Linked DNA regions of Homo sapiens: region 1 is linked to region 2. Evidence: fine-mapped expression QTL. A gene starts in region 2. The other region holds a variant in brackets. All regions are shown on one strand. Distances are from middle to middle.

Region 1 (15,685 bases), 59 kb before region 2:
ACCACGCCCGGCTAATTTTTTTGTTTTGTTTTCTTTTGAGACAGGGTCTCACTCTGTCACCCAGATTGGAGTGCAATGCCTCAATCTTGGCTCACCACCACAACCTCTGCCTCCCAGGCTCAAGCGATTCTCCTGTCTCAGCCTCCTGAGTAGCTGGGATTACAGGCGTGCGCCACTACCACCCAGCTAATTTTTTTGTATTTTTAGTAGAGAGGAGATTTCACCATGTTGGCCAGGCTGGTCCTGAACTCCTGACCTCAAGATGATCCACCCGCCTTGGTCTCCCAAAGTGCTGCGATTACAGGTGTGAGCCACCACACCCAGCTTCCCGCTAATTTTTTTTTTTTTTTTGTATTTTTAGTAGAGACGGGTTTTTACCATGTTGGCCAGGCTGATCTCAAACTCCTGACCTCAGGTGATCCGCCCGCCTCAGCCTCCCAAAGTGCTGGGATTATAGGCATGAGCCACCACACCCAGCTCGAGCTAATTTTTTAAACTTTTTGTAGAGACAAGGTCTCATTATTTTGCCCAGGCTGGTCTCGAACTCCTGGACTCTTGTGACATTTGTTCAGGGGGAAGCCAACACCATGTATGAAGTTTAACCACCCTGAGATGGCCACGTCCTGAAGAAGCCCAGTCTAGCCATGCGGAGAGACTACATGCATAAGAGGTACCCCACTAAGCCTCTAGATGCTCCAACCATCCCAGCCGAGGTACCAGACAAATGAATGAAGAAATCTTCAGCTGCCATCTGACTAGAGAACCACCAGCTCACTCTAGTTAATTCCCAAAACTGAGCGGTTTTTTTTTTTTTTTTTTTTTCAGACAGGGTTTCACTCTGTCCCCCGGGCTGGACTGCAGTGGTGTAATCACAGCTCACTGCAACCTCCACTTCCAAGGCTCAAGTGATTCTACCTCAGCCTCCCCAGTAGCTGGGACTACAGGCACAAGCCACCGTGCCTTTTTTTTTTTTTCTTTTTTTTCTAGAGACCAGGGTTTCACCATGTTGCGCAGGCTGGTCTTGAATTTCTGGGCTCAAGTGATCCTCCTGCCTTGGCCTCCCAACTTACTGGGATTACAGGCCACTGGGATTACAGTTCTAGCCACTGCACCTGGCTAGAACTGAGAGATTTAACAAGTTGTGGCCAGGCGCGGTGGCTCACGCATGTAATGCCAGCACTTTGGGAGGCCAAGGCAGGTGAATCACCTGAGGTCAGGAGTTCGAGACCAGCCTGGCCAACATGATGAAACCCCATCTTTACTAAAAATACAAAAATTAGCCAGGTGTGGTGGCGGGTGCCTGTAATCCCAGCTACTCTGGAGGCTGAGGCAGGAGAATTGCTTGAACCCAGGAGGCGGAGGTTGCAGTGAGCCAAGATCACACCATTGCACTCCAGCCTGGGCGACAAGAGTGAAACGCTCTCAAAAAAACATACAAACAAACAAAAAAACAAGTTGTTTTAAGTCACTCAGTTTGGGGCTGCTTGGTTGGGCCGCAAGAGATGAGTGGAACAATGAATGAGACTGGATGTCCTCTGCTACCCAATGACTGGCAACCATGAGCTTCCTGGGTCTGTAATTCCATCAGCTGTCCATCCCTTACCCTGGAAGGGTAGAGGATTTATTCTTTGGGTAGACATAGTTTAAGAGTTTTTTTGTTTTTGTTTTTTGTTTTCAATGAAAAATTGCCAAGCCCTTTGGAGGCCCTGATGGCTCAACCAGGTTGGTGGCTGCTAACGAGAGTGAAGATCTATATTCAGTCCATCTGGCACATGTGCAGAAGACCCTTCTCCAACCCCAGATCATGACTACAAATGGCTATCAGTTGGACAAACATACATCCTGATGAGAAGATATGGTTGGTTCATCACAACCTTTTATTTCACAATATTAATAGTAATCATTATAGCTACCATGTATTAAGCCTTCACCATGGGGCTGTTAAGTCTTCATTGCTTAGCTTTACTAAACTAGATAATGTGTTTGCTTATCTCATGGATTTCTCTTAACCATCCCCTGAGATCCCCCTATAGTTCTTATCCCTTTACCCCCATTTTACAGAAGAGGAAAACTGAGGCTCAGAGAAGGGGAGTCACTTGGCCACAGTCGCACAGTTGGAAAGTGGTAGAGCCAGGATGAGACGCTAATTCTGACTCCAAAGCTAGTTATATATAATAATAGCACCCAAGTAATGTATAGATTACCATGTTTTCACATATGGCAAATTAAGGAATCAGAATGAATGATGCATGCTGCCCAAGCTGGACAGAGGATGGGCCAGGGCACAAGTGACGGCTGACCCACTGATCCATGGAACCCCCAAGAAAGGCTCTAGAACAAAGCTCTGATTTCACAGTGAGATTAAAATTCTGCCCAAATCAGGGTACATGGGTGGAATTAATCAAAAAAGTTAGTATGTATGCCTTTCACCCCAGCAATTCTACTTCTCATTTTGCAGAGACTCACTCATACAGTGGCATCAAGAGGTTATATGTGCAGGAGAACGTCCACTGCAGCTTTGCCAGTAGCGATGAAAACTGCTAACAGCCTAAGGGCCTAGCCAAAGTGGAATGCTCAAAAAAGATGGTTTGCTCTAGAACAGGCAGCTGGTAAAAGGAGTGGTGTTAGATCAGCACATGTTCACATCAGAAATGCTCCAGGAGCCAGGTGCGGTGGCTCACGCCTGTAAACCCAACTCTTTGAGAGGCTGAGGAAGGATTGCTTGAGCCCAGGAGTTTGAGACCAGCCTGGGCAACATAGTGATTCCCCTCTTTACAAAAAATAAAAAGTTAGGTAGGTGTCATGGTCCAGCTACTCAGGAGGCTGAGGTGAAAGGACTGCTTGAGCCCAGGAGTTAGAGGTTGCAGTGAGCTGTGTTTGCAGGAGTTAGAGGTTGCAGTGAGCTGTGTTTGCAGGAGTTAGAGGTTGCAGTGAGCTGTGTTTGCAGGAGTTAGAGGTTGCAGTGAGCTGTGTTTGCAGGAGTTAGAGGTTGCAGTGAGCTGTGTTTGTGCCACTGCACTGCAGCCTGAGCAACCAAGCGGGACTCTGTCTCCAAAACAAACAAACAAACAATCCTCCAGAGCAATCTGTTAAATTACATTTTGGAATAACCTATTCAAAATGGTTTTTTCCATACGTCTTTAAGATGATAATATTTATATGTTCAAAAATTTAAAGTCTGGAAGACTATGTACAAACAGAAAATGGTAGCATTACCTTTAGGAGCTATTGAGAGGAAGTACAAATAGAGCCACTTGCCTTCTTACTATCAATTCTGATTGTCCCATGTTTTATAATATATTCATGTAGTACTCTAAACAAAATCTTTTCAGATCAAATCAGGGGAGATGAAATGAGAGTGGATTCTGAGCCTAGTTTTTTTCAGGGAACAAGACCCAGTGCTACCACTTAGGGGCTAGAAACAGAAATTGTATTTATTTTATTTTGTTTTATTTATTTTATTTTTGAGATGGAGTCTCACTCTGTTGCCCAGGCTGGAGTGTACTAGCATGATCTTGGTTCACTGCAACCTCTGCCTCCTGGGTTCAAGCAATTCTCCTGCCTCAGCCTCCCAAGTAGCTGCAACTACAGGCATGCGCCACGACGCCCAGCTAATTTTTGTATTTTTAGTAGATGGGGTTTCGCCACGTTGGCCAGGCTGGTCTGGAACTCCTGACCTCAGCTTATCTGCCCACCTCAGCCTCCCAAAGTGCTGGGATTACAAGCATGAGCCACCGGGCCCGGCCTCTTTATTTTCTTTCAGTGTTTTCCCAGGAAGTTCTCTGAACATCCAGGGTCTTCACAGATGGACTTCTCATAAAAGGTAACTCCTGGAACCAGACATAAATTTTTTTTTTGGGGTGTGTGGTGATGGGATACATAGCTGTCGCCAGATTCTCAAAGGGACAGTGTCACACTTAACAGAGCAAGGAGAGTAATCGGTGATTGGTGAATGATCATTTATCAGAGACTGTGTGTCAAACATTTAAAAAATAAAAAGTAACTGCTGAAGAAATGAACAAAAAGGGTCACACCTTCAAAAAAGCCTAATTTCCATTCCAGAGCAATCTCAAGACAAGGAAAAATAAGAGCTGCTTCACACTGAGGGCTTATCTGGTATCAAGGACCACCGCCAATGTCATCCATTAGCCATCCCCAATAAACCCATGAAGTTCAGCCTGAACAGCATAGAAAGACCTCGTCTCTACAGAAAAAAAAAAATTTAAAAAGTAGCCAGGTGTGGTGGCACATGCCCAGCTACTCAGGAGGCTAAGATGGGAGGATCACCTGACCCTAGGAGACCGAGGCTGCAGTGAGCTATGATCACGCCACTGTACTCTAGCCTGAGTGACAGAGCGAGATTCTGTCTAAACACACACATACACACATACACACCATGAAGTTTTAACTTCCCCATTTTACAGATGAAGAGACAAAGTCTCAAGCCATACAGCCAGTAGGTCAGCCTGACTCCAAAAACCCATGCCCCAAGCCACAATAAGTCACTGCCTTCCAAAAGCCTCATATTATCATGAGATATAAGGCAAGGAGGTATGGGTAAAACACCTTAACCCTTAAAGATACAAACTTATTGTAGGCCCAGTTGGTCCCTCAGCATTTGGGGACTGTGCTATAAGGGTTAACTCAGCAGGCTTGAAGTGTCCAAACCCAGCACATCTCAAAGAAAAAACTGGCCTTAATGGGCTCCTGGGAGATAACCTCTAAGTCCTTGGAATATCCTCCCAAGTAGGGGTGTCTTTGTATACCTCAGGCCTTGGGCCATACCAGGCCAGATAGTTTGTGCTAATAATGTGATTTATGGTGGGGACCTTGGGCCATGCTGTATCATTTTGACCTCTGGAGCAGCTGGTGATTAAGTAACTAAAGTCGGTCATGTGATTGCCCTATGTGACTGACATGCAATAAAAACCTAGACCCCAAGGCTAGGGTGAGCTTTCTGGCTGGTAATATTTAGTACGTGTTGTCACATATCATTGCTGGGAAAATTAAGTGTGTCTGTAAGACTCTACCAGGAGATGACAACTGGAAGCTTGAGGCCGGTCTCTCCCGGACTCTGCCCTATGCACCTTTTTCTTTTGTTGATTTTATTTTGAGATGGAGTCTTGCTCTGTCACCCAGGCTGGAGTATAATGGCACGATCTCCGCTCACTGCAACCTCCGCCTCCCAGGTTCAAGCCTCCTGAGTAGCTGGGATTACAGGTGCACACCACCACGCCCAGGTAATTTTTGTATTTTTAGTAGAGACGGGGTTTCACCATGTTGGCCAGGCTGGTCTCGAACTCCTGACCTCAGGCGATCTGCCTGCCTTGGCCTCCCAAAGTGCTGGGATTACAGGCGTGAGCCACTCCACCCGGCCTCTTTTGCTGATTTTAATGTTTATCCTTTTGCTGTAATAAACCATAACCATAAGGATAATAGCTCTTCTGAATTCTGAGTTCTTCTAGCCAATCATCGATCCTGGGGGTGGCCCTGGGGACCCTGACACAGGAATTCAGCTGTGCCTTACATGCACCTATATTCTCCAGCTTTTTGCTCATCACAAATCTACCTGACAAAATCCAGTATGGAAAGAAAAAAAAAACCCTATTCATTCAGTAAAGT[A/G]AGGCACAAACAAATGAGCCTCTGTTCACTTTATTCAAAGAGTATTTTTTTCCTCTGTGAAACTAGGTAGAACTGAGGAGGAATCAAAGAAAGCCTCATATATTAAACTCTTAAATAGATTCTTTGAATTCAAAGTAAGGGTCAATAGGAGAGGCACAGGTTGTGGGCCTTGTCCCAGCAAACAAAGCCACCAAGGCAGTCCTGCAAATTAAGGAGGATGGCAAATCTGTCTCTTAAAAAAAAGTTCTTGAGGGGAAAAATATAAAATACCTAAGTTTCAAAAGCCGGACTACTTCCATACCCTTCATTCTCTACCCTGGAGTGTCCAGAGATAGAGAGTTTCAAGGTACGTTTTCAATGATTCAGCTTTTGCAAACATATGCAAATACATTCCTCATCAGCAGTCCTGTTTTGGCGATTAATAGCAAGCAATATGCTTGGATTAGAGGTCCGATTTCCACTTAAATGCATTTTCTTCTCTTCTTGGCAATGAAGTCATTTGCGGAGATCTGAAAGTGGGGAAGACTGTGTTAGGCTCAGAGTAACAATTCTGAAATAGATCATTTATATTTATACATGTGATTGCAGAACATACTGTCTTCATCCATTCGCATAAGCATGTAATGTTTTAAGAATGCATCCCAGATGGCCAGAGAGAGTTTAAATTTAAAAACGTTTCCTGGGTTCTTCCCCACATCTCATCTTGCATCCACTTGACCTCAAATATACACTTTTCTTATGGACACAGAGCAAATGACAGTGATTATGTGATAAATACTGATGAATTCTTGGAGGCAAGAGAAGGACTCATGTTTGTTCAAGGCCAACTCTGTACCCAGGATTCAGCTAAAGCACCTCTATATGGTATCTCATTTAAACAGTAAAACAAGTAACAAATCTGCTTTTGTCAATGAGAAGGTCCAGGATTCTACTAATGATCTGCAGAAAGGCAGCGAGGGAACAGTTAGTGAGGAACAGGGAGGAAAGCTGTTTTTCATGAGAGGGTTCTTTTCTTTGGAATAGAACTATGGGATCTTGGGTAGGTGTGGTGGCTCATGCCTGTAATCCCAGCACTTTGGGAGGCTGAGGTGGGCAGATCACTTGAGGCCAGGAGTTTGAGACCAGCCTGGCCAACATGGTGAAACCCCGTCTCTACTAAAAATACAAAAATTAGCTGGGTGTGGTAGCGCACACTTGTAACCCCAGCTACTTGGAAGGCTGAGGCACGAGAGTCACTTGAACCCCAGAAGGTGGAGATTGCTGTGAGCTGAGATCGTGCCACTGCACTCCAGCCTGGGGAACAGGGTGAGACTCTGTCTCAAAAACAAAAACTCTGGGATCTTAGTGCAACTCAAGATGGGAACCCTAATAATGACAGAGTCCTTGCAGGTTGGAGCAAAGTAAATTGAAAGAAAAACTAAAACATATGCTGATTGTTTAAAAATAGATACAGAGACTAAAAATAAGAGTCCAAGCTGGAAGGTGTTTCCATGTAAAATAACCTCTCTTGAGGTTTCCTTTAACCTGATCATAGAGGCTGGGGGACAGAAGGAAGTGAGCTCACTCATGCAGCCTTAACTCCAGTGCCCAAGTCCACAGCGAGGGCCCAGCACTTCACGGTTTCCAAGCACTCCCACCTGGGCCAGCTCACGCCATCTCATGGCCAACCTCAGAGGTGGGCAATGATGAATCCCCATTCTCCAGATGAAGAAAACAGGGGCTGAAGGGAGTTAAACCTGGAGATCTTAAATCTTTGAATTACCAAGTTCAAAAAAATCCCTTTCCCCACCCCTTAGTAGAATATGGATGGATAAATGTGCACTTAAAATCATTCACTAAAAGCAAACCTGGGAGGAATTCTGTCCCTTGGTGGCTGTGTAGCCTTGGGCAAGTCAAAGCCCTTCCTTCTCTGTGCTTTGGTTTTCTCTTCTGTAAAATGGAATGATCATGTCATCCGCCTCCCAAGGATGCTGAGGGTTAAATGAGTAACACAGGACCAGTACCTGGCCCAACGGCCATGGGGGTTATTCTTAGAACAGAACGACTTGTGACTGTTATTAGAACATTAATTGCTCTGGCCCAACGCTGATGCTGTTTTTAGAAGCCAGACTGGCAGACAGCATTCTGTGCAAAAATGGTTCCAGAATCTCCCCCTCCCCCATCATAGTGGTGCTTCCTGCCCTGTCCCCAGTGTCAGACAAACCTTTTTCTGGTTGGTTCAGCGTTAATCCCTCTCCCTGTCCTTGATCCAGAGCTAGAAAACTAAGCCTTGATTCTATAAATAGCACCCCCAGTCTGTCACCATGGAAACCTCTGATGGGGCTGGGTCAGCCCACCCTAGTGGACATGTCTACCCCAGGGAGGCTCTGGAAGGACAGAAAAGTGGCTTTTCAGAAAAGTGGCTCCGGGGCCACCCAGAAGCAGCGGGAACCCCCAGTGAAGTCCACAGGCTTACCTGGAAATCACGAGCTTCCTAAGTGGGAGGAGGTGCTGTTCTGGTTCACCTGGAGAAAGACAATACACAGAAGAAGGGGTCACGGCCAGGTGAGGGATGCCTTGCTGTATTGAGGGTCACCCCTCAGCATCACTGAGTCATGCACATGCTTATTCACGTAGTATTTACTGTACATCTACTATGTGCCAGGTGCTGGGATAGCGTGGTGAGCGGGACAGACCCAAACCTAGGATCACGGAACTTACGTTCGAGTTGAAGAAAAAGCCTACTGAACACGCACAGATGCAAGAAAATGTCAAACTTGGGCAATATGACAGGCTGCTATGAGTGATCAGTATCTGTGCTACTTCAAAAACGGTGGCCAGGAAAGGACTCTACAAGATGGCATTTCAGCTGTGGTATAATAATAAATATTTGTTCATTGTCCCCAGTTCCTGGCACATAGCTCCCCAAACTCTTGGAATCTCTGAAGGAATAAGGGTATCTTGGCCGGGCGCCATGGCTCATGGCTGTAATCCCAGCGCTTTGGGAGGCCGAGGAGGGTGGATCACCTGAGGTCAGGAGTTTGAGACCAGCCTGGCCAACATGGCAAAACTCTGTCTCTACTAAAATACAAAAATTAGCCGGGTGTGGTGGCGGGCACCTGTAATCCTAGCTACTCAGGAGGCTGAGGCAGGAGAATCGCTTGAACCCGGGAGGCAGAGGTTGCAGTGAGCCAAGATCATGCCACTGCACTCCAGCCTGGGTGACAGAGGGAGACTAGGTATCAAAAAAACAAAAACAAAAACAAAAAAAAAACAAAACGTATCTTTTGCATGCTAATGACATGACTAATGGCTGGGGGTCCCTAGATAGCTTCAGGATTAGGGGAAGGGGTCTCAGAAAGACCAAGGCATGATTAGAGGGTTGGAACTTTTTTTGTTGTTTGAGACGGAGTCTCACTGTGTTGCCCAGGCTGGATGGAGTGCGGTGGTGCAATCTTGGTTCACTGCAACCTCCGCGTCCTGAGCTCAAGCAATTCTCCTGCCTCAGCCTTCCAAGTAGCTGGGACTACAGACGTGTGCCACCACGAATGGCTAATATTTTTTGTATTTTTAGTAGAGACAGGGTTTCACCATGTTGGCCCGGCTGGTTTTGAACTGCTGACCTCAAGTGATCTGCCTGCCTCAGCCTCCCAAAGTGCTAGGATTACAGGCATGAGCCACCACACCCAGCCAGAAGGTTGGAACTTTAAGCCCCACCTGCCTTCTCCCCTCCCTGACCTCCTGGGAGGGGAGAGGGGAGAGGGTCTAGGGGCTAGGAGCTGGAGATTGGGCAATCACCCATGACCCATGATTTAATCAGTCATGCCTCTATGATGAAATCTCTAAATGACAGAATTTGGAAAGCTTCCTGGTTGGTAAACACATTGAGAGGCTGGGAGGGTGTCATGCCGGGAAAGGGCATGGATGTTCTGTGACCCATCCCCCATACCTCACCCTACGCTTCTTGCATTTGACTGTACCTGAGTTGTATTCTTTTTTATGAGACAGGGTCTCACTCTGCCACCCAGGCCAGAGTGCAGTGGCACGAACATGTGCCACATGTGCCATACCCAGCTAAGGCTTTCTCTTTTTTGTAGGGAGATGGGGTCTCACTGTGTTGGCCTTGAATTTAAAAAAAAAAAATTAATGCGATCTGAGAGCTAGGGACCATGGCTTTTGAGCATTTCCTGGTTGTTTGGGGAGAGGTCCCACTCCCTTTGTGGGAATCAGAGATCTATCTTTTGCTGACGTCAAGAAAGTAGCCAGAATTAGTGAGCACTAATTTAGTATTTGTTTTAACCAAAAAGATGATGTAGGCAGAACAACACAGTGGGGATGAGGAGAATTATCCACAAACTGAAACTTCTCATTTTTGCACGTTGCCTTCGTTTTTGTTGTTGTTGTTGCTGCTGTTGTTTTTAAGAGACAGGGGCTCCAGCGATCCTCCCACCTCAGCCTCCTGAGAACCTGGGACTGCAGGCATGCCACTGCACCCAACTCCTGCGTGTTGCCTTTTTTTGTCCACCTGAATATGCATTTTTACATTAGTTGCAATTGTATAGTATGAGCTGCTTTGTTTTGCTTTCTTACTATTTTTTCATCATTTGGGTTTCACTAGCACCATTTTGGATGGCTACAGATATTCTGTGGAGTGCATGTACCACCGTTTACTGACTGCTTACCTAAGAATGGTTCCAATTTTTGCAGTATTTTAAATGACATCACATCCTGATTCTGCCTCTCTTCTGTTGGGTACTGAAGCTCTACTGAATCATTCCCTTAGAATTCACTTCTAAAAAATGGAATCATGCTTGAACCCGGGAGGTGGAGGTTGCAGTGGGCTGAGATGGCGCCACTGCACTCCAGCCTGGGTGACACAGTGAAACCCCATCTCAAAAAAAAAAAGGAATCAGCAGGAGCAGGTGGAAGGGTTCAGATCTTTTGAAGACTCTTGAACAACAAGGCTAAAAGTGTTTTACAAAAGGGTTGGGGTCAGGAGCAGTGGCTCACGCCTGTAATCCCAGCATTTTGGGAGGCCGAGGTGGGTGGATCACTTGAGGTCAGGAGTTCGAGACCAGCCTGGCCAACATGGCGAAACCCCTTTCTACTAAAAATACAAAAATTAGCCAGGCGTGGTGGCCGGTGCCTGTAATCCCAGCTACTTGAGAGGCTGAGGCAGGAGAATTGCTTGAACCTGGGAGGCAGAAGCCGCAGTGAGCCGAGATCACCGCATTGCACTCCAGCCTGGGCAACAAGAGGAAAACTCCATCTCAAAAACAAAAACAAAAACAAAAACAAAAGGGTTGGGCCAGTTTATACTTCCTGCCGTGTATGACATATGCAAGATGTCTAGCTGACCTGGGACTGGTTTTTGTTGCTTTTAGGAACAAAATATGAAGGAATGGCATACCCCCACGCTCAGGAGGGCTGCCCTGCAGATAAGTTTTGTCAAGCCTCTATTTCCAACCCTCATCTCCCTACTGTCCTCCACTGTGCACATAATGTCATTCTGGATGTTGTAAAAACTGGAAATGGTCTTGAAGAAGCTGTTTAGTAAATGGTAGCACATGCATTCCACAGAACACTACGTAGCCATCCAAAATGGTGCCGGTGAAACTCAAAAGATAGGAAAATATTAAGAAAGCAAAACAAGGCAGTTTGAACATGAAAATTGCAATGAACATTCCTGTAAATCACATTGGGGTAGAAACAAAGAAAAATATAATTGCAACGAATGCAAAAGTGCATACGCACTCCAGAGGTTTCGGCCACACTCCCCACTTTCAGGCGTTTACAGTTCCCTCTGCCGGGAAGCCTTTTCTATCCAGATCTTTGTGTGGCAGACCTAGTTTTAATCCTTCAGATATTGGCTTATGGGTGCTTTCCAATATCAGTGACCAATTCTCTGATTATCTGGATACCAACTGGGTGTTCAACAATTCAGTTCAGTTCTGACACCAGCTCCCAGACTTACTTAGCATCAGCTGCCACAGATTAAGGGCCCAGTTCCACGACTGCCCCACTTTAGATGCCAGCTGCAATGGGGTGCGCAGGCTATCCACACTTCTTCCCAGCCAACTTCAAATCTGGAGGTTCCCACAACCCCCACTCTGGTTTGATAATTCACTAGAACAGCTCACAAGACACTAGGGAAAACACTTTACTAACTGCTACCTGTTTATTATAAATAATACAACTCAAGCTTGGACAACATGCCAAAACCCTGTCTCTACAAAAAACACAAAAATTAGCCGGGCATGATGGTGTGTGTCTGTAGTCTCAGCTTCTTGAGGGGCTGAGGTGAGAGGATTGCTTGAGCCCAGGAGATTGAGGCTGCAGTGAGCCATGATCACACCACTGCACTCCAGTCTCAACAAGAAAGAAAGCCCAAGAAAAAGTCCCCACGAAGTCCCTCCAACTGCATTCAAGCCGGAAGACGAAGTGAGAGGCTGCTTCCTGGCAGAAGGGCCACTGAGATGTGGCCCCAGCTGGATCAGTGCTTAGAGACCCTCTGGTCCAGCACGCATCCCCACAGCCCTTTATTTTTTATTTTTATTTTTTGAGATGGAGTCTCGCTCTGTCGCTCGGGCTACAGTGCAACGGCGTGATCTCAGCTCACTGCGACCTCTGCCTCCCAGGGTCAAGCGATTCTCCTGCCTCAGCCTCCCAAGTAGCTGGGATTACAGGTGTGTGCCACTACGCCCGGATAATTTTTGTATTTTTAGTAGAGACGGGGTTTCACCGTTTTGGTCAGGCTGGTCTTGAACTCCTGACCTCGTGATCTGCCTGCCTTGGCCTCCCAAAGTGCTGGGATTACAGGCAGCCAGCTCACATCCCCCTTTTTATAATGGGAAAACCATCAACCAGAGTGGAGAAGTGACACATCTAAGGGCATACAGCCAGATGGTGGTATAGCTGAGAAAGACAGAATTCGGAATTCCCCTTGGGGTTTCTAACCTGAAAATATCCTTTCAGATTGGCTGGTGTTTTATAGTCCCCTTTCAAGACCTAAGGAAGAGAAAAAGAAATATCACTATTATGAAAATGGCCAAAAAATAAAATTTAGTCATTCCCAACACATCCAGTCATCCACCCATCCACCTCGCCACCCACCCATCCCTCCATCCAACAAACATTGCTTAAGCTCCTCTTCTTCTAGGCATTATTCTAAGCATTGTGTCTGGTTGACATGATGTTAACCAGATAATGGAAATTCCTGTTCCCCTGGAGCTACCATTCTAGAGGGGGCACCAGATAACATACAAGAAAAATAAACACAGATAAACAAGGACATAGCAAACCATGGGAACTGTTGTGAAAAAAGTACAGTAAAGAGGTGGGATTAGGAGTAACCAGGGGGCTTCTTTTGAGTGGGTGGTCAAGAGGGGACTCTTGGGCCAGGCGCAGTGACTCATGCCTGTAATCTCAGCACTTCTGGAGGCCAAGGCAGGAGGATCACTTGAGTCCAGCAGTTTGAGATCAGCCTGGGAAACACACTGAAACCCCATTTCTAAAAAATTAAAAATTAGCTGGGCATGGTGGCATGCACTTATCGTCCCAGCTGCTCTGGAGCTACTCCAGCCTCAGCTGGAGGATTGGTTGAGCCCGGGAGGTTGAGGCTGCAGTGAAGTATGATCACATCACTCCACTCTAGCCTGAGTGACAGAGCGAGACCCTGTCTCTAAGAAAGTGAATAAATAAAAATAAAAAGGGCCTCTTGAAATAGATAACCTTTGAGCTGAGACCCAAACGACAAGGAAAAATAGGTAGGCTAAGCTCAGAAGAAAAAGCACTCCAGGCAGAGGCAACAGAGCAAAGGCCCTGAAGTTAGAACCACAACATTTCAGGCCTTTCCGCTAGTAGTCACATTTTAAAATAAAATGAAACAAGGGAGATTAATTCTAACAATATCTTTTATTTAACCTGATATAGCTAATTTTTTTTTTTTTCTATTGAGACATGGTCTCACTCCCATAGCCCAAGCTGGAGTGCAGTGGTGCGATCACGGCTCACTGCAGCCTCCACTTCCCAGCCTCAGGTGATTCTCCCACCTCAGCCTTCTGAGTAGCTGGGACTATAGGCACGTGCCACCATGCCTGGCTAATATTCAATATTTTTAGTAGAGATGAGGTTTCACCATGTTACCCAGGCTGGTCTCAAACTCCTAGGCTAAGCAGTCTGCCTGCCTTGGCCTCCAAAAGTGCTAGGATTATAGACATGAGCCATCATGTCCAGCCTATGTAAAATATTAACATTTCAATATGTAATTTATATAAAAGTGACTAATAAGAAACGTTACATACTTTTTTGTCCTAAGCCTTCAAAATCTAGTGTGTATTTTACACCTAACAGGACCTCTCACTTTGGACTAGCCTCCTGTTACAGAATCAGGGGCCACACATGGCTAGTGGCTACCGTATGGGACACTGCAGGCAGAGACGATTTCATCAGCATAGATGTCCTTTTAGCCACTGTGTTTACTGAGCCCCAGGATCCATTATTGGAACACACAGGGTCCACAGCACTCACAGAAGCACACAGGCATGCATGCAAACTCACAGGGCTTAGTGAGAGGACTTTTCTTTGCAGTAACAGCCAAGCTATGGCAAAAACTAAACCAGGGATCTAGCACTTGCCAAGACTTGTTGACCGCCCCAGGGAAGAAATCTCTTTGGATGAAAATGAGAGACAGCTTCCATTTTAAATAAACAAACACAAAAAGCTCCAAAGAGTTGATGTTAACCACCAGTGCTCATGAAAATTATTTGTGTTTTATAAAATACATAAAGTCAGGCTTTACTCCAGGAACGTCCGACCCATAGCCTGGGGCAAGCCAGGGGCAGCGAGCCACCTTTTAAGGAGACCCCAGAGGAGCCACTGCTGGGCCCTTGGCTGAGAACAGTGAAGTAAGCAACATCCAGCCCACTACTGCAGTGTCCCCAGCCGGCCCTCGCCTCTGCTTCTGAGAAGCACCTGGGGCTGGATTGTGAGATCACTACCATCTTTTTAATCCAGTTAATTAATTTTTTATTTTGATAATACATGTACAACCCACAGGCAGATAAAAGTATGTAAAACACATAAGTAGGGTTTAAAGATTACTATTATTAAAGAATAATAAAATAAAAATTAATAATATTTATAATAAAAATAACAAACCACATCTGGGTTGCAGCCATTCACCTGTCAATGTCGGCTGGTATGTACGTTGAATCTCTGAGTATTTCCATAAATAGATGTCTGCAAAATCAACTAATGTCAAGAGGAAGAGGAACTCACGAGACCCACAGACAAAGCTTACACTTCAATTACAAGGGCACAGCCCCCAAAGCTCAGCGTTAGTAAATTCTCTTTGTTAAAGAGAGATCAGTGAGTGCTAGAGAGGTGGTAATGACTTTTTAGCACCAAATGGAAACTTTCTTCTTGAGCCAACTGAAGAGTTACGGAACTAAGAGACGATTAACTTTTTTCCGTTGTGATTCAATACGATAACTGTTTATTTCCTAAAATCAGCACACGCTCAGAAATGCTGAGCTTAGCTTAAATTAAAGACTCTGGGTCTTAATGAAGTAAGGGCTGTGAAAGCTCTTCCTCAGGCCTGGGTCCCATTTTCAAATATTTGCCTATAAGGAAGTTAGAACACAGCACTTAAAGTAAACTAGAAGCTGTAATGGAAACGTATAAATAAGGCCATCAACTTGTTAACTGTTCTTTTACCCAGTGGGTGTTAGCCTACTTTAACACTTCAAAAGCATTTTGTCAGTCACTGGAGGCTCACACCTGTAATCTCAGCACTTTGGGAAGAGTGAAGCAGGGGCATCCCTTACGGCCAGGAGTTCTAGACCAGCCTGGGCAACGTAGCGAGACCCCGCCTTTATAAAAATTAAAATTAGCTGTGCATGGTGGCGTGCACCTGCAGTCCTAGCTACTCAGGAGCCTGGGGTGAGAGGATGGCTTAAGCCGAGAAGTATCAGGCTGCAGTAGCTATGACTGCACCAGTGCACCCAGCTTGGGCAACAGAGCAAGACCATGCCTCAAACAAAACAGTACAAAACAAAAAAGTCATTTCCCTTCACCATCTTAA
Region 2 (15,685 bases):
GAATAAAGCATGCACCACCATGCCCGGCTGATTTTTGTACTTTTTTGTAGAGACAGGGTTTCGCCATGTTGCTCAGGCTGGTCTTGAACCCCTGAGCTCACGCAAGTGATCCGCCCGCATTGGCCTCCCAGAGTGCTGGGATTATGGGTGTGAGCCACTGTGCCCAGCCTGGAGGCAAGACTCAGTTTCTAACCTTGTTTTTCTTCCCAAAACTCTTAGCCATCAAATATGCACTGCTGGTCTACTGTGCACTTGAGCAAGGAATGACCACGTAGCAGAATGAAGGGCAAAGGCACCTACTGCATGCAGCTTCCAGCAGTGCTCAGAGGAAGGGTAGCCGACACTCCCCCAGTACCCCAAACCAAATCAAACCAAAAACAGCATCTGCCGTCCTGCTGCTAGCCCAGGCTTCCTCTTCTTCCCCACAGCCCTGGGGCCCGGTGGGGAAGGGAGGGCCCTGGGGGCGTGGAAAGGGTGTGGGTTGAGAGGAAACCATGGCCTTGTAGGGCGGCCTTGCCAGGTGCCTGACTCCACAGGGCCTCTGTCTTCCACCTGGGAAGTAGCTACTACCACTTTCTCACACCTCCAAAGGTTTCTGGCTGAGCCCCCGGGCTCTGCAAGGGTCCGGATGGTTCTGTGGCAGGATGTCAGCCACCAGCCAAAGCAAGTGGGATGAAAAGTTTTTAATGAGAGAAAGGAAGGGCCGTGCTGGCACCTGTGTGGGCTTGGGGTCGGCAGCGGGAAGGAAGGGGGAAGTGGTGCAGATTGGGGCGGAAGAAGACAGAGAGAGAAAAAAACAGACAGAGGCAGAGACAGAGGGAGATAGAGACAGAGGATGTAGATGGGGAGAGAGAGTCAGAGGAGAGGCAAAGATGGGAGTAAGACAGAAAGAGTGACAGAGACAGGGAAAGACGTGAGTTGGGGGGATGGGTGGGAGGGAGAGAGAGGCAGGGAGACAAAAATAGAAACCAAGACAAGTTGGGTACAGAGGCTTACGTCTGTAATCCCAGTACTTTGGGAGGCTGAGGCAGGTGGATTGCTTGAGCCCAGGAGTTCAAGACCAGCCTGAACAACATAGTGAGACCCCATTTCTACAAAAAATAAAAAATGAACCAGGTGTGGTGGTCTGTACCTGTAGTCCCAGCTACTCGAGAGGCTGAGGCAGGAGAATTGCTTGAGCCCAGGAGTTCAAGGCTGCAATGCTGCCCCTGCACTCCAGCTTGGGCAACAGAGCAAGACCATCTCAAAAAAAGAAAGAAAGAAAAGAAGAATAAGAAAATCACCAGACAGAGAAGGAGAGAGATGAGCACTAGCAGCAGCCTGGAACAGGAACCTCAGCTCCTACACCATCAACGGGCACCTACATCCCTGCACCCACATCTTAGCTACACAGCCATCCCGCCCTTCAGTCAAGGCCCCTGGGTATCCAGGGAAGAAGGGGAATGTTGAGAGAGAGGTGACTACTGGCCCAGCCCCCTCCAGCCCTCTCACCTGTTGTGGGGCTCTCCAAATTCCAAGCTTCTGAACACTACCTTCCCAATGTTAATTACATCCAGAACCCCCTTTAATCGTATTCATTTTTGTTCAATGGATCCAATATTTTTAAAACATATTTTCAAGGGAAACTATAATCCACTGGATTAAATTTAAAACATGCCCTAATTAAAAAATTAATGCAAAAATAAAATCGAAGGAAGCAATGTTTTTTTATGCCTTCTGGCTAGAGACGGCCGCCAGCCTAAGGAAGGATCCCCAAAGGAGCCGGTTGTGTCCGATCTTTGTTAAACAAGAGGAGTCTGGGGAGAAGCACTAAAGACGCGTTAGCACCTAATGGAGGCTTTCTCCGGAAAGTCATCAGAGGGTGGGGAGGAAGACTTTCGCTCTGTGATTTAGCACTTCATACTAGGCAACAGCAGCCTCCAGGGCAAAATTCAAGTCCTTTGGCATCGCACTGAGGCTCTGTTGTGACTTAACTCCTGCTGACCTCCAATTTTATTATAACACCACCGATTCCCCCAACCCTCAACATACATACACACACACACACACACACACACACACACACACGCACACACACACACACTATAGTCTTTGTGCCCTGAACTCTACCAAACATACCAGGCCACAGAGTCTCACACCTCCAAACTTTTGCACTTGTGATTCTCTCTCCTTGGAAAACCTTTCCTGACCTCCTCTACAAAGCTAACTCCTACTGGCATCATTTGCACCCCTTCCTCCAGGAAGTCTTCCCTGACTGCCTCCTGTCCCTGTACCAGTATCCCCCAAGGTGCTTAGCATCCTGTGTGGCTTCTGGTGTTGCTTCCCTGCCAACCCCATGGAATGTGCAGGGCTGGGACCCCATCCTAGTCCCCACATCCTCTCAGAACCCAGCATGGTCCCCAAACTTCCAGCACAGGGTGCACAGGTATTTGTTGAGTAAACAGAAGGATGGATTGAGAAAGAAATGAAGGCACCAGAACACTCTGGGACAGAAGGAAATCTAAACTAAACCCTCTCTGTGCTCTGGGAAAAAGTTCTAGGCAGAAGCTCCTGTCCAATAAGAATCAGTCAACTTGACTCAAATTGGCCTCACCTACTCATTGGTCCACAAACTCTGGGCCAATGGCCCAGCCTCTATTCAGTTTTCTCGCCTGTAAAGTGGAGACAGTAGTATTGCCTATGATAGAATTGAGCTAAGAAAAATAAACGTAAAGAGCTAAGTACCCAGAAAGCACCCAAGTCTTAACTGCAATCATTACTATTTTTATCAGCATCTAACACTCACCAAATCAAAGTTTTATAACTTGTAGGGACTCAAAAGATGATTAGAAAAGCAACTGGCAGACTTTCTCTTCAAAGGCCAGCAATGTGGGCTCTCTGGTCTCTATCACAACTACTCCACTCTGCTTTTGTTACACAACAGCAGCCACAGACAAAATGTCAATAAATAAGCATAGCTGTGTTCCGATAAAACTTTATTTACAAATACAGGTAGCGGGCCGGATGTGGCCTATGAGTGGTAATCTGCCAATTTCTGATCCAGACCCTCACTATTCCAAATGTGGTCTTTAGACAAACACCATCAGAGGCCCCTGGAAACTGGTTAGAAACACAGTCTTAGTCTCTGCCCCAAACCTGCTAATCAGAATGTGCACTTTAGCCGGGCGCTGTGGCTCACGCCTGTAATCCCAGCATTTTGGGAGGTGGAGGCAGGCAGATCACTTGAGGTCAGGAGTTTGAGACCAGGCTGGCCAACACAGTGAAATCCCGTCTCCACTAAAAATACAAAAATTAGCCGGGCATGGTGGCAGGTGTCTGTAATCCCAGCTACTTGGGAGGCTGGGGCAGGAGAATCGCTTGAACCCGGGAGGCAGAGGTTGCAGTGAGCCGAGGTTGTACCATTGCACTCCAGCCTGGGCAACAAGATCGAAACTCCATCTAAACAGAAACAAAAACAAAAACAACCAAAAACACAGAATCTGCACTTTAACAAGTTCCCCAAGGGGATCATATGCATGTTAAGATCTGAGAGGCCTGGGTACTCAACTTCATAGGCTGACATCTCACGTCAGAGATGTGGGTTACTTTTTCTTGCCTGATGCCTCCACCAGAACGTAAACTCCAGGACAACTAGGACCTCGTTGCTTCTTAAATCTTGCACCCCAACATCCAGTTGAGGGTTCTCATGTGTCCTTATTCTAGTGGAAGACGTCACTCAGTGGCTATCCGTGCAGTGCTGGGATCAAGGCATGACTTCCACTGACAGCCTCTGAAGTTGGGCAGATGGGCTTTGAGTCCTGGTGCTGAATCTCAGGCCTGTGTGACCTCGGGAAAGTGACTATTTCCAAGCCTTGGCTTCTGGGAAATGGCGTGGTCAATAACAAATATCTCACTGTGGGGAACAACAGTTAGGTAGGGGCCTGTACCAGGTAAGGTGGCACGGCACCCTAGCGCCCAGAGACAGGAACTCCCCACACAGGGAGTATGCAATGGGGACAACCTCCAGTCCCAGCACTCTGGGAGGCTGAGGTGGGAGGATCGCTTGAGCCTGGGAGGCAGAGGTTGCAGTGAGCCGAGATCACACCACTGCACTCTAGCTTGGGCAACAGAGCGAGACTCCATCTCAAAAAGGAAAAAAAAAAAAAAAAAGAACAAAACAAATAAAAGGCCAGGCACAGTGGCTCACACCTGTAATCCCAGTACTTTGGGAGGCTGACACGGGCAGATCACTTGAGGTGAGGAGTTCAAGACCAGCCTGGCCAACAGGGTGAAACCCCGTCTCTACCAAAAAAATACAAAAATTAGCTGGGCATGGTAGTAGGCACCTGTAATCCCAGCTACTCAGGAGGCTGAGGCAGGAGAATCACTTGAACCGAGGAGGCAGGGGTTGCAGTGAGCCAAGATCATACCACTGCACTCCAGCCTGGGCGACAGAAGGAAACTCCATCTCAAAAAAAAAAAAAAAAAAAATGCCTTGAGGGCTTAAAATGGCAGACAGGGTATCAGGAGGCCTCAGACAACCTCCAATATCCTAGAAACACAGAGCTGGAAGGGCTCTTGGAGCGTGTCAAAAAAAAAAAAAAATTGTGCCATGCGCGATGGCTCACACCTGTAATCCCAGCACTTTGGGAGGCCAAGGCAGGCGGAGTTCGAGACCAGCCTGGCCAATATGGTGAAACCCTGTCTCTACTAAAAATACAAAAATTAGCTGGGCGTGGTGGCATGCGACTGTAATCCCAGCTACTTGGGAGGCTGAGGCAGAAGAATAGCTTGAACCCAGGAGACGGAGGTTGCAAGGAACCAAGATCATGCCATTGCACTCCAGCCTGGGCGACAAGAGCGAGACTTCGTCTCAAAAAAAAAAAATTGTTTTTAAAGCAATGGAACTGCTTATTCAGGTGGCACGAGGCAGGCCTAAGGCATCCTCAGATCCCCTGAAAAGCCGCACTTACGTGACAATGGGGAGTAGGGGGAACCACAGTGACTGGGAGAGTCCAGGCCACCTAAGGGGCAGCTTCAGGCCACTCCAGTTTGGCCTAAGCTCCTGGGTTTCCAAGAGAAATGAGAAATCAGAATTTTTCTCTAGAAATGTTTGAATGTTGACTCAATTTTAAAAACACACACGTAGCATGGGAGCTCAACAAAAAACATGCAGCAGGGTGAACTCACCCATTTAACATGTACGGAAACTGGGGCTCAGAGAGGGGAAGCTCCTTGCCCAATGTCACACAGCAATTTGGAGGAAGAGTTGGGACTTGGCTGCTTCCAAGCTCTGCTGTGCATGAGAGTGTGGGAGTGGGAGGAACAGAGCGAGTAGGGAGGAGTGGGTGGGAATCTGGACTTTACAGGCCAAGAGCCCTGCATGTTCTGATCATCAGGGAAGGAGTGTGGACAGAGGGATGGAGAGCGGATCAATATTTATTCAGAATAGTTATAACAACACCTGATGTTTTCTGTGTGTTTTCTATGTGCTAGGCCTTAAGATGGGATATCAAGGAGGAGTAAGAATGAGAATTCAGAGTGTAGAGTCTGGGCTGGGTGTGGTGGCTCACGCCTGTAACCCCAGCACTTGAGAGGCCAAGGTGGGATGATCGCTTGAGCCCAGAAGTTCAAGGTTATAGTGAGCTATGATTGTGCCACAGCACTCCAGCCTAGGCAACAGAGCAAGACCCTGTCTCAAAACAAACAAACAAAAAAACCCAAAACAAAAAAAAAAGAAAGATTCTGGATCCAAATCCTATGTCTCCCACTTCCTAGCTGGGTGACCTTGTGCAAATTACTTCACCTCTCTGAGCCTCAGCCTGTTCACATCATATGGCTGTTGGGGGAATTAAATGAGTTAAACCACATACAGTGCCTAGAACAGTGTCTGGCACCCAGTAAGCCCTGTTGATATTGGCTGTATTTATAATTGTTGCCTTTTGACAGACGGAGGAACTAAGGTTCACAAACGAACATGTTCAAAATTCCAAAGAGCCTGTTTAACCCCAGGGCCTCAGCTTTTGCCTGGTACCAAGATAAGTGCTTTACCACCATTCCCTTCCATCCAGCACCCCTGGAAGATAGGTCCTACTTATACCTGCATTCAACAGATGAGAAAACCAAAGCATAGAGAAACAGCCAACAGCCCCAGAAAGATGTGGAGCACCTGGATTCTAATACAGGCCAGTGCCCCCTAGCTCCCTATCACACTGCCTGCTTTCTGGGCTGCCTGCCTGCTTTCTGGCTGCAGAAGCCCCAGTCAAAAGTCTTACTGATACAAAGTCACTCGGCAGACGGGCTGGCTGCCCGCCATCTGAGCACATAGGATAAGAAGTTTCTCCCTGGGCCATCAGCCCCAGACGTTCCCTAGGGCCTGTGGGCACTGCCTCTGAGGTCCTTCCCTGCAATTTCTGGGGGCTGGCCAAGATCTCAAGCAGCTCTGAATGAATCATTCCCACAAATCCTCCTCTGGCTGCAGTAAAGGGTGGGGGAGACCTGAGAAGTGACGGGAGGGGACAGTCATCCCAGATCTCTGGAGGGGCCCCAGACCGGGTACATGCAGGTCCTCAGAGGGCACGGGGACTTGCAAGCAATCGGAATAGGCAGCAAGTCGGGGAGCAGGAGCTGCTGCTACCCAGAGAAGCTTCCCTGGTGCCACGTGGGGCATCAAAGCCACACAAGCCACATGCATTTTTCCAAGAAAGTACATTCTGGTCACCAACCCCAGGCTGTGAAGCTACATCTGATCTGCCACTCTTACTACAAATACACCCACAAAGTCACATCAATAATACATTTCAGGCCAGGCGTGGTGGCTCACACCTGTAATCCTAGCACTTTGAGAGGCCGAGGCGGGCGGATCACAAGGTCAGGAGATCGAGACCATCCTGGCTAACACGGGGAAACCCTGTCTCCACTAAAAATACAAAAAAATTAGTCAGGCATATGCCTGTAGTTCCAGCTACTCGGGAGGCTGAGGCAGGAGAATGGCGTGAACCCGGGAGGTAGAGCTTGGAGTGAGCCGAGATCACGCCACTGCACTCCAGCCTGGACAACACAGCGAAACTCCGTCTCAAAAATAATAATAATAATAATCATAATAATACATTTCAACAGCCTAACCGATCCCAAGGCACCACCACATCTTAGTTCTGAATGGTCTATGCCCATTCCTCAGTAGGGTACACTGACACCCAGAGAGCGGCAGTTCCTTGCCTAGGGAGCCTTCCCACCCCGTCTCCATGTCCCTAGGCTGCTTTCTTTCTTTCTTTTTTTAATATTTAATTGATTTTTATGTACTGACCTAATACCCTACAATCTCGCCCTGTTGCCCAGGCTGGAGTGCAGTGGTGCAATCTCAGCTCTCTGCAACCTCTACTCAAGCGATCCTTCCACCTCAGCCTCCCGGCTATCTGGGAATACAGGCGCGCACCACCACGCCTGGCTAATTTTTGTATTTTTTGTAGAGATGGAGTTTCACTATGTTATTCAGGCTGGTCTCAAACTCCTAGGTTCAACCAATCCATCCACCTCAGCCTCCAAAAGTGCTGGGATTACAAGCATGAGCCATGCACCCGGCCTAGGCTGCTTTCTTAATGCACAGGAACTCAGGATTTTAAAAGGACAAGGAAAGGCAAGTATGCAAAAAAGAATAAAGTCACGAGGTGCCAGATACAGCGGCTGGGAGGCGTGGTCTTAACACCATTCCCAAACAGCAGCTGCCCAGATGAACCAAGTTGTCAGGAAACTGGAACACGCAGATAAGTGCTGGTCTAAGTTCCTGAACCAGCAGAGTACAGGTTCAAGCTGGGGTGAACTACCTACCTTCTCAAGGAACTCTTCCTCTGTGAAAACGCTGGGTTCTGACCTGAGTTCTTCCGGTGCAGCCTCTTGCTGAAGCAAAGAGTGTGAAGGAAGAAACACAGGGTCCTAGGGGTGGGGAAGGTGCTGAGAGGAGGGGGAAGATGTCTGTGTGTGCAGAATGTTCACAGATGAAGCGTCTGTAACTCAGGACTGCTCATCTCAGGCCTGGGGGGTGGCCCCTCTTGAAATAAGCAGCAACTCACATAGGACACTCCGGTGGCCACCCAGAGAAGTCACCTTCAGAGTAGCGTGGGGGGTTCCAGATAGGGTGTGGGCAGGACCAGACTTAATTTTGGGGTCAAGGGACAAGTCTTCCCCTTCAGTTATGGTCTAGGAGAGCCATGGAGGGTCTCCCTGGCCTCCACAAAGCCTCAGCTGGCAAGGGGGCTCCAGGCTGGCCCGGGATGGGAAGATCCGAGCAGCTTCCACCTTCCTTTCACCCCCTCCTAATACTGTGTGCCAGCTCCTGGGGTGGGCTCTGTAAGCCACTGGGTCCTACACTGCCTCTCCTTGCTTCGGTATTTTCACAGAGTCTTGCTCTGTCACTTAGACCGGAGTGCAGTGGTGTGATTGATCTTGGCTTACTGCAACCTCTGCCTCCTGGGTTCAAGCGATTCCCCTGCCTCAGCCTCCCAAGTAGCTGGGGTTACAGGCACGCACCACCACACCTGGCTAATTTTTGTATTTTTAGTAGAGACGGGGTTTCACCATATTGGATAGGCTGGTCTCGAACTCCTGACCTCAGGTGACCTGCCCACCTTAGCTCCCAAAGTGCTGGGATTACAGGTGTGAGCCTCCGTGCCCGGCCTGAAAATAGTTTACAACTAACACATCAAAGCCAGTGATTTCAAGGGTTATGACTGCTTCAGAGAACACTAAATGTATTTAAGATTATTGGAACCCTCATACACTGGTGGTAGGAATATAAAATGGTACAGCTGTTCTGGAAAAATAGTCTGGCAGGTCCTCAACAGGTTAAACCTGGGTGCAGTGGCTCACACCTATAATCCCAGCACTTTGGGAGCCTGAGGTAGGAGGATCGCTTGAGACCAGGAGTTCAAGACCAGCCTGGGCAACATAGTGGGACCCCTATCTCTACAAAATAAATAAATAATAAAATAAATTAAAAAAATATTTAAAGGTGAAACCTAAAGTTACCTTACGACCCAATCATTCCACTCCTAGAAATATACCTGAGAGAACTGAAAATGTATGTCCAAAGACCTGTACATGAATGTTCATAGCAGTATTATTCATAATAGTCAAAAGTTAGAAACAACCCAAACATCCATCAGCTGACAAATGGATAGAATGTGGTATATCCACATAATAGAATATTATGCAGCCATAAAAAGGAACGAAGTACTTAAAAAAAAAAAAAGGAATGAAGTACTGATACAGGCTGCAAGGGGCTGAACCTTAGAAACATTCTCTGAAGTGAAAAGCATCAGATACCAAAGGCCACATAGTATATGACTGCATTTATATGAAATGTCCAGCACAGGCAAATTCATAGAGAATTTGAGAGTCAGTAAGTGGTTGCCAAGGGATAGGGGAAGAAAGGATTGGGGAGTGACCATGAAACAGCCTTTCTTTTGGGCATGATAAAAATGTTCTAAAATTAGACAGTGGTGATGACTATGCAACTCTGAACATCCTAAAAATTACGGAAACATATACTTTAAAAGGGTGAATTGTACGGCATGTGAACTGTATCTCAACAAAGCTGTTATAAAAAAAGTTTGCATGAGATTTTTAAAAATCAGGTGATACAAAGATGTATATTAAGTAAACAACAGTACAATTGGGGTTCAGTGGGGTGGGGGGATTCAGAAATGACCCAACAGTTCCTTTAGGACAATGAAATAAACCCAGCTTTACAGTTATGGAAACTGAGACTAGATCGGAAGGAAAATGCGTCGCCCGGGCCACATCACTACTAAATCCGGTGTGTCACAGATCTGTTCAAATCCAGAAGCCTACCCTCGCCAGCAGACCACCCTGCTGAGATGAAAGGGTTATCACATGGAGGCTAGGGAGAGGTGTCCACCCACAGCCCAGTCTGGCAGACAGACATGCAAGGGAATGTCTGTTGGGAAGTGAGAAAAAGGGCTGGCTAACTCTGTGGGGTTCAAAACAGGAAGCACCCAACAATACCAGGAGAATGCCAGGGAAGGCTTCCCGGAGGAGGTGCTGCTTGAGGGGGCTTCTGTAGGATAAGTAGGAGTTCAACAGCCCGCCTCCTCAACATCCCCAAGGACATTAAGTCAGGAGGCCTGTGAGTGAGTTTCAGCTCTGCCACATCCTAGCTGTGAATCCTAGGGTCACGGGCAGGTGACCTCTCCAAGCCTCAGTCTCCCCATCTGTAAAAGGGGAAGGGGGCAAGAGGTTAGGCACGGTTCTTTCTAATGACTCTGCTGAGGTGGATGGTTCCTTCCCTAGGGAACGGGCCTTTGAGTGGGAATGCCAGACCTCGACCTCTGTCCCATCTAACAACGACTCTGCCAGGTCAGGCGTGCTCAGCCTCTGAGCCCATGCTCCCAGTCCCCTGCTACCAGTCCCAGTCCCGGCTTTCCGGGCACCTCCCATCCAGCTCACACCGAGAAGCGGAGTTTACGGAGGGAGGTTGGGGGTTGGGGTGGGATCCTCGGGTCAAATTCCTCTCCACTCCTCACCAGTGACCTCCAAGTTCACTAGGGCTCCCCAACCCAGTGCTCCCAGCGCCCACCTCCCCAGCCGACGATTTCCGCCCCCAACGCCTCCACTTCTGACGCTCCTCGCAACTCCACGGCTGCTGCAAGTTAACTTCCACGCGCCCTGGCGCCCGCCTGGGGGTCCCCGCGCGCCTGGGCGAGGTTGGGGACTCCGGAGGCGGGGACGCGCCGCCCTCCCCCCCAGTCCCCCCGCCAACAGACGCTGAGCGTCTCCCAGGCGCTGGGTCCGAAGCGGGAAGCGTGGTAACGGGGGCCCGGTGGATGCCGCACCCCGCGGAAAGCGCTCGGGACGCCGAGCGGGTGCGGATCCCAGAACCGCGCGCCCGCGCCGCCTGCCTGCCTCCCAGATCCCAGCTCCCAGCCCCGGAGCCCGAGCAGTCGCGCCGGGCCCGGAGGCAGCCGCCAGGACGGAGGGCTGCCAGGCGCCCGAGGCCGACCCGCACGGCCCCCAGCCCGCGCCCCCGGTTGCAACCCGAGGCCACCCCCTGCCGCCCCAGGGCCACCTACCGTGGCGAGACGCGGCGAGGCAGCCCCACGCACCCAGCGACTCCCGGCTCTCCAGCCGCCCCAGCCGGGGAAGGGGGAGGTGCCCGCGCGGGGGCGGGGCCGCGGCGACGTGACGTACGGGGGCGGGCCCGATACGCGGCCCCGCCCCGCCCCGCCCCATCCCCTCCACTGCGCCTCGGGACCGCGAGGTGAGCAGAGGCTGGTCGGGAAGTTTCCCGGAGGCTCGCCCCGGGAACCCCGCCCCGCCGCCCTGGAAGCCCCTGTCTGCTCGCTGGCTTACCCCTAGGACGGGCAGCTCACCACTTCTCCCGGTCAGTTCTGTTTAAGAGAAGTTCCTTTCTGCCTGTAAGCAATGAAGTGGAATGATCACCAAAAAGTGGTGTAAGAAAAGAAAAGTAGACCCGCAGCGGGGTGTATTCGTGCTACTGTTTGTGTAAAACACAGAAAAAAGAAAGGGGTGGTCTGATGTATAGTCATACACACCAGTGGTTTTGGAGGGAGTTTTTGTGGATATACCACATTCTCTCCATTTATCAGGGATTTTGCCCTGACATCCCTCCACCACCACGACATTTGGCAATCTCTGAAGACATTTTTGGTTGTCATAACTGGGGAAGTGGAGAGGCGATACTGGCATCTAGTGAGTAGAGGCCTGGAATGCTGCTAAACATTCTGCGGTGCATAGGACACCCTTTCCACCCCCAGCCCTGCCACTACCCCCCCAAAAAAAACCCTGCAAAAAATGCCGAATAGCGTAAAGGTTGTGAAGCCCTGATATACACAAATGAAACAAAACTCCTGACTGATAAATCTTAGCACAGTCTAAGTTCTATAACCTTTCAGTGCTTCTGCTTCTTCATGTGTAAAATTGGAAAAATAATAGAGCTATCTATGCATCGTATGCTTGTGCATTGAATACCTGAAGAAAAGGTAGGGTAGGCATGCAGGCTTACTTTTCATTGTGAACTTTGGTTCTTTGTTCTCTTTTAACTTTCTATTTGCCATATGTATATATTATCTGTTTAAAATAAATTTCTGGGTCAGGTGCATGGCTCACACCTGTGATTCTAGCACTTTGGGAGGCGAGGCGGGCGGATCACTTGAGGCTAGGAGTTCAAGACCAGCCTGGCCAAAATGGTGAAACCTCGTTTCTAATAAAAATACGAAAATGACTTTGGGAGGCCAAGGTGGGTGGATCACATGAGGTCAGGAGTTCGAGACCAGCCAGGCCAACATGGCGAAACCCTGTCTCTACTAAAAATACAAAAATTAGCCGGGTGTGGTGGTACATGCCTGTAGTCCCAGCTACTCAGGAGGCTGAGACAGGAGAATCGCTTGAACCTGGGAGGCAAGGGTTGCAGTGAGCTGAGATTGCACTGCACTCCAGCCTGGGCAACAAGTGAGACTCTGTCTCAAAAAAAAAAAAAAAAATGCAATCCCAGCACTTTGGGAGGCCGATGCGGGTGGATCACCAGGTCAGGAATCCAAGACCAGCCTGACCAATATGGTGAAACCCTGTTTCTACTAAAAATACAAAAATTAGCTGGGCATGGTGGTGCATGCCTGTAGTCCCAGCTACTCAGGAGGCTGAGGCAGAAGAATCGCTTGAACCCAGGAGGTGGAGGTTGCAGTGAGCCAAGATCGCACCACTGCACTCCCACCTGGGCGACAGAGTGAGACTCCGTCTCAAAAAAAAAAAAAAAAAATGAGCAGGGCATGGTGCTGCTCACCTGTAATTCCCCCTACTTGGGAGGCTGAGGCACGAGAATTGCTTGAACCCAGGAGGCAGAGGTTACAGTGAGTGTAGATCGCACCACTGCACTCCATCCTGGGTGAGTACACACACACACACACACACACACACACACACACACACAGAAACTAGGGCACACAGATATTAAGTAATTTGCCCATGGCCAGCCACATGTTCATTCATTGGTCATTCATTAATTCATTCATGTGTCCAATAAATAGTTAGTGCTTGCCTTATGGAAAATGCTGGGACTGATAAAGCTGCCTCCATGGAGCCAGCCATTACTGGTCTGGAAACAATACAACAACATTACATAGTGTTTATTGCGTGCATGTTAGAGACTTCATATGACTGATTTGATAGACACATAGATTAAACACCAGCAGGGTGTTTTATAATGTCCTTTTGTGGATGAAAAAAATGGAGTTCAGAGGAAGAGGTGTGAATGGGGGCATTTGTTTAATAACATTCTAGCAATGGCATTTCCTGAGCTCTCTATGCTAGGCACAGATTCAGCAGCTAACAGGGGGACAAAGGTCCAAGTTGGGGAAGCTAGATCCTTCAACAAGCCTTCACAGTAAAGTGAGCACCTGTAACTGATGAGGCAGGAGCAGCAGAGATTAACCTGGTCCAGGGAGGGAGGGCCAGGCGTGTGTATACATGCCAGAGGCATGGGTGGGGATCCTTGGAAGAGTGCACTGGTCACAGAATCTAGCAGGTGCAAAGGCCTAGCAGGAAGGAAGCGAGCCTGGGGCCTTGCATGAAGTGCAGAGTGGACAGGATGTGGTGGAGGTGAGAGAAGAGATCAGAGGTGTCTGCAGGGCTGGATGCTGCAGAGCTTTGTGGGCTGTGGGAAGGAGTCGGGGCTTTTCTCTTGCAGTGATGGAGAGACAGGGAAGGTGTTCAACAGGGGAAGGGCATGGGGAGCCTGACTTTCTGCAAAGATCCCTCTGGTGCTGTGTGAAGAAGAAACAGGCAGAAACTGGTTTGGAGGGTGTTGAAATAATTCAGGAACCCAGAGAGGGGATGTGGGCATGGAGGGGGTGTTTTGGTTCCGGAGAGGTTTGGAAGACAGAATTGGCAGATCTCAGTTGAGAGGCTAAGGAGGAGGATCAGAATGATCGTCTTGTTGTCTAGGTTGGGACTTCTCTCAGTACCCCTAGCTCAGTGAACCTTTCCAGGTCTCAATCTGTCTGTCACCTCCTTGAGGAAGGCTAATTGCCCCTCAGGACATCGTGGTGGACCAGACACCAGACTGTGCAGCCCAGGAATTTGATGTGACTTTGAAGGCAGACAAAATAATTCATTCCTCCTGTCTGCATCTTCAGCCGGGAACACCTAGAGCAGATACCTCTTCTGTCTTCCTCCCCAACCTATCTTCCCAGCATCTAGGCAAAACCCAGTACTTAAGAGGTTTTATCAAAAGCAGGAAGAATATTTATCAAAAGCAGGAAGAATAGATGTAGCATAATACACATTGATCCAAAAATTCTTTCCAGCTCTGACATTCAAGAGGATGAGGTTGATGTTATGTCAATAATTACACTTTAGGCCAGGCTCAATGGCTCACTCCTGTAATTCCAGCACTGTGGGAGGCTGAAGAGGGAGGATAGCTTGAACCCAGGAGATTGAGACCAGCCTGGGCAACATGGTGAGACCTTGTCTCTACTTTTTTTTTTTAATTAAAATTTTTTTAAAAACCATTTTATTTATTTTTATTTTATTTATTTATTTCTTTGAGACAGAGTCTCACTCTGTTGCCCAGGCTGGAGTACAGTGGTGTGATCTCGGCTCACTGCAACCTCCGCCTCCTGGGTCCAAGCAGTCCTCCTGCTTCAGCCTATTGAGTATCTGGGATTACAAGCATGCGCCAATATGCCTGGCTAATTTTTGTATTTGGAGTAGAGATGGGATTTCTTCATGTTGGCCAGGCTCGTCTCCAACTCCTGACCTCAAGTGATCCACCTGTCTTGGACTCCCAAAGTGCTGGGATTACAAGTGTGAGCCACCATGCCCAACCACAGAAAACACTTTATTCAGGTGCTTGCTATGTGCTAAACACCTTATAATTATTATATTCAAGCTGATCATTTACCCTCTCCAAGCTTTTGGTGTTTTATTATCATTACTCCCATTTTACAGATGTGGAAACAGAGGCTCCAGCAGGTAATTTGATTTGGCCAAGGATAATAGCTGGTAATTGTCAGAGCTGGAATGCAAACTCAGGTCTCTCTCACCCTTTCTAGTACACTGATAGAAGGCAGTGGCTCGGCAGTGGGCAGGAAGTAAAAGTAAGTGGGCAGGTTTTCTTCTCCTGCTGGAAGGGTGTAGTATTATTGTTCCTAGCTGGGGATCCAGGCTTCACAAAGCATTCGTTGATCCTAAGTATCTGACCCAGGCTATTGGCTGTCGTGGCAGTTTGGCTCTAAGAAGGCTCATCTCTTTAGAACCTCTGCAGGGCACCCTGGAACCATGTCTTTTCCCCAGAGCCCAGTTGCTGTGTATTTATCAGCATCTCATGCTGGCACAAAAGCATTCAATGCCTCTGGGTGATCCTCCTGCCTCCACCCCACATATACACACTGCCGGCGTTGGGCTTATGCTCCAATGTCTAAAAGATTACGGGTTGCCTCTTGTCGATGAGAATGAGAGCCGCTCTCTCATAATCAAGATGCTTTGCCTTTCCAAAGGCCTGAGACTCAAAGATTCACAAGCTGGGATCTATCTAGCTTTGAAACAATATGAAGTCCCCAGTTTCCTCAGGCATTGTATTTTAAAGCCAGTGCTTAGGGACACTCCTGCTTGAACCCGGGAGGTGGAGGTTGTGGTGGGCTGAGATTGCGCCACTGCACTCCAGCCTGGGCGA

Evidence for each region. PIP is the estimated chance that this variant, and not a neighbour inherited with it, causes the effect.
Region 1: its variant is fine-mapped to the expression of TPST2 in whole blood (TOPMed, PIP above 0.99). The same link has a PIP of 0.9 or more in T cells, blood mononuclear cells, lung, monocytes and nasal epithelium.

Annotation. Positions count from the first base shown.
Region 1 is chr22:26,520,137-26,535,821 of GRCh38, forward strand. TPST2 (tyrosylprotein sulfotransferase 2) reads right to left here. Exons shown (of 7, transcript NM_003595.5): 5 at 12,559-12,609; 6 at 8,078-8,126; 7 at 1,860-6,131. The coding sequence ends at 8,085. Among named protein-coding and RNA genes, the nearest start is that of TFIP11-DT, 15 kb to the left of the region's middle. The variant A/G (reference allele first, on the strand shown) is at 5,623.
Region 2 is chr22:26,578,987-26,594,671 of GRCh38, forward strand. It overlaps TPST2 (tyrosylprotein sulfotransferase 2), which reads right to left and starts at 11,146. Exons shown (of 7, transcript NM_003595.5): 1 at 11,067-11,146. It also overlaps a transcript of CRYBA4 not described here. RefSeq lists enhancers at 547-596, 788-1,705, 10,344-10,844, 11,361-11,500, 13,797-13,946 and 1 more and silencers at 737-816, 1,678-1,972, 10,691-10,870, 10,881-11,250.